Homo sapiens: one gene and its partner. The protein of the gene in region 2 interacts with the protein of the main gene of each other region in a biochemical or structural test. Each region holds a gene or a part of one and is shown on either strand. Other genes may lie near its edges.

The links.
Region 1: the proteins of LEP (region 2) and ISLR2 interact in a biophysical measurement, tested with the Homo sapiens proteins (one large-scale study listed by IntAct).

What each region holds. Positions count from the first base shown.
Region 1 is NC_000015.10:74,129,161-74,133,482, reverse strand, and holds the start of ISLR2 (immunoglobulin superfamily containing leucine-rich repeat protein 2 precursor), read right to left. Parts: upstream 2,898-4,322; 5' UTR 2,862-2,897; exon of another isoform or gene 2,709-2,861; intron 2,668-2,708; exon of another isoform or gene 2,386-2,667; intron 2,277-2,385; 5' UTR 2,167-2,276; intron 737-2,166; 5' UTR 729-736; coding exon 1-728. UniProt on the Homo sapiens protein: Required for axon extension during neural development.
Region 2 is NC_000007.14:128,244,092-128,247,895, forward strand, and holds part of LEP (leptin precursor), read left to right. Parts: intron 1-3,804. UniProt on the Homo sapiens protein: Key player in the regulation of energy balance and body weight control. Once released into the circulation, has central and peripheral effects by binding LEPR, found in many tissues, which results in the activation of several major signaling pathways.

The DNA of each region.
Region 1 (4,322 bases), on a different chromosome or scaffold from region 2:
AGCGGTGGCTCGGCACTCAGATGCACGCTGGGCGGTGCACAGGGCAGGGCGGGCAGGCGGTACACCGGCACCCCCTGCAGCGCGGGAGGCGAGGCACAAGCAATGGAGTCGGGCTCGGGTAAGGACACCCGGGTGCTCGCGGCCCAGGCCTGCAGCCACACAAGGCCGCAGCCGCAGTGGAAGGGATTGTGATAGAGTTGCAAGTGTGACAGCGCGCTAAGCGCGTCGAAGGTGCCAGGCGCCAGCGTACGCAGCCGGTTGTTGTTGATGCGCAGGGAACGCAGGTCGGGTAGCGCACCGAGTGCGTCCCGGGGCAGAGAGCCCAGGCGGTTGTGGTTCATTTTGAGCAGCTGCAGCGCGCTCAGGTTGCGCAGGTCGCTCCACGGAAAGCTGGATATGAAGTTGTGGCTCAGATCGAGGTTCTTGAGCTGACTCAGCACGGCCAGTGCGCCTGGCTCCACGGTGCGCACCTCATTGTGCGCCAGCCACAGCGACGTGACCTGTGTGACGTCGGCGAAGGCCCCGCGCCGCAGCACAGTGATCTTGTTCGCGGACAGACTAAGCGTCGTCACGTTGGCAGGCAGTCCTTCCGGCACCTCACGCAACTCTTTGTAAGCGCAGTCCGCGAACTGGTGAGCGTACTTGTCCACGCAGGCGCACGGCTCCGGGCATGATCCGGCCACTCCTAGAAGCGCCCAGACCAACCACAGGGCCCGAAGGGGGAACATCGCGGCTCCTGCAGATGGAAGCCAGGTGAAGAAGAAAGAAGGTGACTCACTGAACCCCAGCTTACCTCCCCTATCAAGCTGTGCCTCCGCAAGCCCGTTTAGCACTAGTTCCAGGGCTCCGGTAACCTCCTCTATGGCCAGGAGCCTCTCTGAAGTGAAGGTCAATAAAAATCTCGAGGTTCAACGGATGCTCCCTCCCAGGGCCCTAATTTCCTTTTCCAGCGGCCCGGTATATCGCCCTTTTTTCTCTTCCTACTCCTTCCTTCACGCTGGAGCTGGCCCCTCCGTGGGCTCCGCAGCTCGCCCATCTCCAGCGGGCTCCTCACGTACCCCTCTCTGTGTTTCTAAGCCTTCGTTTAACCTGGTGAAATGGATCCTACCCAAGAAGGACATTTTTGTCCGTGACTGGCTGTCCTCCCTGGAACCTTTGTCCCACGCACAGCACTCGCACACACGCCCATGCAGGCACACAACAATACAAACAGACGCGGGGCTTCATAATCAAACCGCCAACTTCTGCAGGGGTTTAGAGGACCTGATGCTCAATTAGGAGGCTCACAACACATTTCCTAAACTCACAAACACATATGCACCCAGACATGGACACAATAGACCCTGCAGACCTCATTGTTCTCTTAACCAGCATTTGTACGTGTTTTCCACCACGGTACAAAGCGCTTTCCTGTCCATTGTGACAATTGACAGACACAAGGACACAAGTCCTCACACGAACCGACCCACCCACAAGAACACAGGCATGTGCCTGTGTGTGCATACAGCCCTCCACTGTGACCGAAACCCAGCAGAGAAGCAATAGGAGGACCTGCACTGCACGACTTGAGATGTGGGATCTGGGGAAGCCCATCCCCATGCCCTACTGCATCTAAGGCCAAAGTCACCTGCCCGGGGCTGCAGCTCCTGTGAGGGGAGAAGAAGGGCTGCTCTGCCAACCTTCCTTACGGGGAAGGAGGTTCTCCCCCATGTTTGGACCAGGTGTGTTGGGAAAGCGGTCACTAGAGCTTCCTCTCAGGTCCCTCAGGCGGCTCCCATTGGGCAGAGGCGTCCTCAGCCAACAGGTCATGGGGCTGCCACTAGCTAATGAAGCTGGAGAAGATGAAAGATTCTGCGCCTTTCTCCACAGCTCTGCGGTGCCTAAGGACCCCCTCCCCATAACACCTTAAGCCCGGTCACACAAACGAACTTGCACAGACTCCCTGCCCCCATTTGGAGCGCCTGTCAGGTTTGGCAGAGCCCCTCCCACAACTTGTCTTTGGGAACCTGCTCCTTCACTCTGCCTTTGCTCTTCTGGGAGGGTCCCTTCCCTCCCTTCCCGGTTCCTGCCAGACAGCACCCCCACCAGCCCCGCACCCCATCAGGTGCCCTAGGCTGGACCTAACCCCACCTGGGTCAAGGTTGTGGGGTGGCCCCCATTGCTTACCCAATATTCGCCGACTCTCAGTAAATGTCCTGGGGCTGAAACCCCTTCTCCAGACCCGGCGTGGCAGAGCAGGGAAGATAGCCCAAGCAAGATACACGCATGTGTTGTGGCTGTGGGGAAAACGGGGGGCGGGGGGCAAAGAAAGGGACAGGTAAGTTTGGGGACTTGGTGGCCCCAAAGTACCACTTCAATTTTTCCTTTTGCGTCCGTTTCCCCCACCTCTCTGGCTGCAGGTTGGAGAAAGTCCTTGCGCACTCCCGGGCCTGGCGGGGACGCGCATAGCCTCTCCCGCCTCCTGCTTGGTCTACTTTTGTTAAAGCCACGGAGACCCTCCCCAAGGCCAAGACACGTCGGTCATAAGGGGCATCCCACGCCCACTGTCCTGGCTGGGCTCTTCGCAGCCTACTGCACCCCCATAACCCACGTACCCCCACATTTACACAGCCGCTGGCATTGTTACTGTCCCTGATCACACCACCTCCCCCACCCCACGTTCAAACACATTCGCGCACACAGTCCCTCACACCCTCCCCATAGCCGACCTTCACAGTTTACAATCATCCATGGTCAGGTAATAATCGCATCAATGTGTTCAGCCCCTGCTACATTCACACGCATTTTCACGGGCACACCTGCACCCGGGACACTTACCGTTCTCCTCTCGCACACGCATACACACATTCACGCGAACTCACCCTCACGCGCCTGTCCCGCCAGCGCCCGCGAGCTTCGCTGCTAATTGAATGCAAGCCGCTTTTACGCCCTGCAACACGTGAGACAAACCATCTTTGAGGAATTTGGGGGAAGGAAAGGCGCGCGGCTGAAGTGGGGGGGGAAGGCGTGTCTTTGCCTTTAAACTCTTTTTGCAAATGCAGGCGGTGGCACCGACAGACTTCGAGCGGGACCCGCTGAGCTGCGCGCAGCCGAGCTCGCGCGGACCCTTCCCTCCCGCACCCCCCGCTGCTAGCCGCCTCCTCCCCGAAGCCACGTTCAACATGATGCATAATTGATAGTGTTAGCAGAGCGCCGCACCCTCCCTACCATTTTTGCCTGGATCTGGGCTGATATAAGCCCTAGTCTCCCCCGCCCCGCCGCCCCAACCCCCCCGCCCCGCCTGCTAGTCTAACCCGACACCAGAACGCACAGCCCTGCAGGGCGTGCTGGGAAGGGACACCCCCCTCCCCAGCCCACCGCAGCCCTGCCCAGCCTCTTAAGCCGGAACTCTTTACTTCTGGTCTTTTGTGGCTAAACCAGCGCTTGAAGCCCACTGCCCGACGCGTTGGCCTGCGCGCACCGCGGGACAGGTGGAGCAGGGGGAAGCTCTCTCGAGCGCACCCAAGCACCTCACTCCAGGTCTTGCCTGCTCCAGGAGAACGGGGCACGGAAGCTGCAGCAGACAGTAGCACAGACAAGGATGGTGGCAAAACGTCCGCTACTCTTGAGCACGGTGGGCTGGGGACTTCAGGCCCGAGCATTTCTCCCATATCTGCCCCCCATATCTTCACAGCCTCTCAAGCAGACACACGGTCAACCCCACACGCACTATCCCCCAAGCCGCGGTGGCCCCTCACCGCCCCGCCGTCTCACACCCTCACACAACAGCCGGCTTCGGCAGACTCGCTGTTCCCGACTGTCGCTCCCTAGCTCTGATGAAACCCCGACATTTCTTTCAGCGACGAGGAGGCGGAGGCGCGGCGATGTCGAGGCATTTGGCTAAAACCCGGTTTCCGCCCCCCTGCGCTGCCCACGTTAGCCCTGGAGACAGCTACCGGCCATAACCAGGAAAGGGGTTCAGGCTCCGGGAGACACGCAGAATCCCCACCCATTCTGTAGCCACTGAGCTCTCTGGGAGCACCAAGCCCCACAGCCATCACCCCGGGCCATGGGGGTCTCTCGATGGCGAGGGTTTGGGGCTTCCGTGGAGATCAATACCCCGATTTGAGTGTTGAGCATCTTAATGAGCTAGGGGAGGGGGTGGGGAAGAGAGACAGGCTAAGAGCGCAGCGTCTAAAGAGACCACCCGGCCCGGGGTTCCGAGGCTGCTTTGTAAATTAAATATGAACAGACTGGTGCGCTCACACTCCAAGCGTCCCTCCCTCTCCCCTACTCCTGCCGTCGCTACGGGCGGCCCAGCGGGCTGAGACCATCGCATCTTG
Region 2 (3,804 bases):
AAAAAAAAGTAACTGGATGTGATGGTACACACCTGTAGTCCCAGCTACTTGGGAGGCTGAGAGGTGGGAGAATTGCTTGAGCCCGGGAAGTCGGGGGTCCAGTGAGCCTTGATCACACCACTGCACTCCAGCCTGAGTGACAGAGCAAGACCCTGACACACACACACACACACACACACACACACACACAGATTAGAGCTGAAACAGGAGTAGAAACCTATCTGTATCTCTGATGAGATCAGATCTTTCTGATGAACAGAAAGAATGTAACCCCTGTACTCACACCCTCTCTGCTGGTTACATATGTTAACACGATTTCTCAAATGAGGCTTTTGGTTGCAAATAAGAGAAAATCACTCACGCTGGCCCTGTGTTTTTCAAATTGTTTATTGTGATCAACATTTGAAAAAAGAGCCGAGACTCTCAAGAGTGCATTACCCACGGTAAGGGTGAATTTTACTTCTTGACACTTATTTCTCTTACATGTATCTATCTGTCTCAAATGAAAAATATATTTAGAAAGTTGAAAGCTATCCAAGTGAGTATAAGAAAAGAGTATCTCACCCTGAAGGCTAAGGACAGGGAGGGCCACCAGGCCTCACGAGGACCCAGGAACCACAAAGAAGGCTAGGAAGGAGCACAGGCGGTGACCATACTCTGGCTCAGTGGCTATGTGGGCTCTGGTCTCTCTCAGCTGTTCCATGCATATGAGGCCAAATGTGGCTACCCTAGAGCTTCTGAGCCCTCAACAGAGATGAACTGGACTCTCTGCAGCCCCACTCTAAATTCCTAAGAGAGAAGTTGATTGACCCAATCAGGGTCAGGAGAAGGAAGGGAGGAGGAAAGGGAGGAGAGAAGAGCCTCTTCGTCTCTTGCCTACCACTGGCCAGGCAATTGTAGCCAAGGGGGCTGGAGTGTAAATGCAAACATAGCCATCAAGGGTTGTGTATGTGTGTGTGTGTGTCTGTGTGTGTGTATGTGTGTCTCTTGGGTAGGTTAGATCTCCCAGGAGGTCCCTACTAAACAGACTTAAGCCCGCAAAATTTTAGCTCTCCAGCCTCACACACTCCACCCCTCTACCATATTGAATCTTCCCAAACCAACTATGGCTTTCCCTAACTCCGGAGCTTGGCCTGGAATGCCCTGCTTCCCCTCTTTCCCCTGGGGAACGCCTGTCCTTCAGGCCTCAGTTCACACACTGCCTCCCTTGCAAAGCTCTCCTCCCATCCCCGGAGTCCCTCTTCCCCTTTGTTCTTTGGGTTCTATGCTTCTTCCCTCATAACTCCCACCAGGTTGTGTTAAAATGAGTTGTTCAAGGTCCTGTCTGTTCCACTAGATTCTGAGCAACTTGGAGAACGAAGATCCAAACTTCGCTGCCTTTATTTCCTCCTTTGTTCTTTTCTCATCCCCAAGTCCCTTCCAACTTGGAGTTATGAAGAAAGGAAGGAAGGAAGGGTGGGAGGGAAGAACAGGAGGGGATCCCACAGGAGAATGTGTATAGGGAGAGGACTCAGACTAGCTAAAGCTTTTCCCTCATAATTAATAGCAAATACCATGTTACCTGAATTTAATTCACAGTAGCATACAAAAGACTCGCTTTGTTCTCCCCATTGATGTCATCAGAGGGCTGTGGGCAGGCCTAATCTTGGCTCAGGAGGCCCTCCAGCCTGGATCTAAAGAGCAGCAGATGGGCCAGGCTCGGTGGCTCATGCCTGTAATCCCAGCATTTTGGGAGGCCGAGGCGGGTGGATCACGAGGTCAGGAGTTTGAGACCAGCCTGGCCAAGATGGTGAAGCCTCGTCTCTACTAAAAATACAAAAATTAGCCAGGTGCGGTGGTGGGCGCCTGTATTTCCAGCTACCCGGGAGGCTGAGGAGGCTGAGGCAGGAGAATCGCTTGAACCCGGGAGGCGGAGGTTGCAGTGAGCCGAGGTCACGCCACTGCACTCTAGCCTGGGCAACAGAGCAAGACTCCGTCAAAAAAAAAATAAAAAAATAAAAAAATAAAAAAAATAAAGAGGAGCACACATCTCTGCCCATCCTAACTCCCACTTTGACATTGAGGTCCCCAGGATGGAGGGTCTGCCTCCATCTGCCTTGTCCCCTGCAATGGTGGGAAGGTGATGGAGCTCAAGTCTAGAGGCCACCAGCTTCTTAGGGAGGTAGGAGGTGGAGGGTGGGGTGCGGGCCCTGCACACAACTGCCAAGTGAGGATGGGGGTGGGGTCCACCTGAGGATAAGTAACAGTGAGGCTGGTGCAGAGGACCCAGGTGGAGGTAGACAGCAGAATTTGTGGTGGGGTGGATGGCACATTATATAAGCCTCTCTTGCTGCCCTGTTTACTGAGATTGTTTCATTATCTTTTTTGGCTTTTGTTTTTAAGAGATGGGGTCTTGCTGTGTCACACAGGCTGGAGTGCACTGTGTGATCATACCTCACTGCAGCCTCGACATCCTGGGCTCAGGCAAACCTCCCACCTTGGCCTCCCAAGTAGCTGGGACCACAAGCGTTTGCCACCACACTCAGCTATTTTTATTTTTATTTTTATTTTTTTTAGAGATGGGGTCTTGCTGTGTCGCCCAGGCTGGTCTTGAACTCCTGGGCTCAAGCGATCCTCCTGCCTTGGCCTCCCAAAGCCCTGGGATTATAGGCTGAGCCACCACACCCAGCCACATTTCATCTGTGCAGCTCCAGGGGCTCCACATTCTACTCTTCTCATTTCTTCTCCAGGGTACCCATGGCAAGGGATGAGGGTAGAAGATGGGGCAGCCAGGCCTTGATTAAAGGAGAAGGAAGGCAGCCTGTGGAGAGGGCAGCCCAGGGAGTGCAGAGAGAAGTGGGCCATGAGGGAGACAGCAGAGTGCAGGCTGCGTCCCAAATGAGCATACAGCCCACTGTGAGCCCACCATCTTCCTAGAGACCCCTCTCCTCTCCAGGAGCTGCTTCAGTAGCACTCAGAGGAAAGAATGATGCTGTATCAACATTTCAGCAGCTCATCTTTTAACTCTAAGAAAATGGCAGCTCCTAAATGTTCAAAACTGCTTTGGAAACTTCTGGAGAGAGGTTTTGCAGCTCAGGCAGACAGCTGATCGCGGCCTTTCTTCCACCCCAACCCATGCTCTCCCCATGCTCTCCTGCCACAGCTGCAGCGGGCCCCTGGGTCCTACATTTGCAGCCCTTTGTCTCTGAGCTCAGACTTCCAATTCCAAGCGGCAGCTGGGCAGGCTCACCAGCATGTCCAGCCAGTACTAGGACATCAGCAGGAGCCCAACCACCTCTTTCCAAAATCTCTCCTCATGTCTCTCCTAGTTTCCATCTCCATCCTTCTAGTCAGCCAGGCTGAAAACATTTGCTCCTCAGGGTGCAGAAGGGAAAGCTTTGCCTCCCTTCCTGGTGCTCACTGCCCCTGCGATTCCAGCCCAAGCCCTCCCCGGCTCCTCACCCTGGTGTCAGCTGGAAGCCACCATCTCCTAAACCCACCTGTGTTCTTCCACCTCTGCCAGGGCTGCCCTCTCCTCCACCTTCACAAACTCAATTCCTACCCATTCTCAGGTCCCTTATCAAATGCCATCTCCTCCATGATGCCTCCCTGATTCCCCTGCTGGAAATAATGGTGATAACAGCTAAGGCATTGGGGTTGGCTACGTGCCAGGCAAGGAGTTGGCACTTTACATGCTTTATCTCATTTCAGCCACATAACATCGACAGGTGGCATTATGATTCATATCATCCCCATCTGATAGCCAGGAAAACTGAGTCCCAGAGAGGTTAGCCACTTTCCTAGGGCCCTGTGCTCTGACTCAAG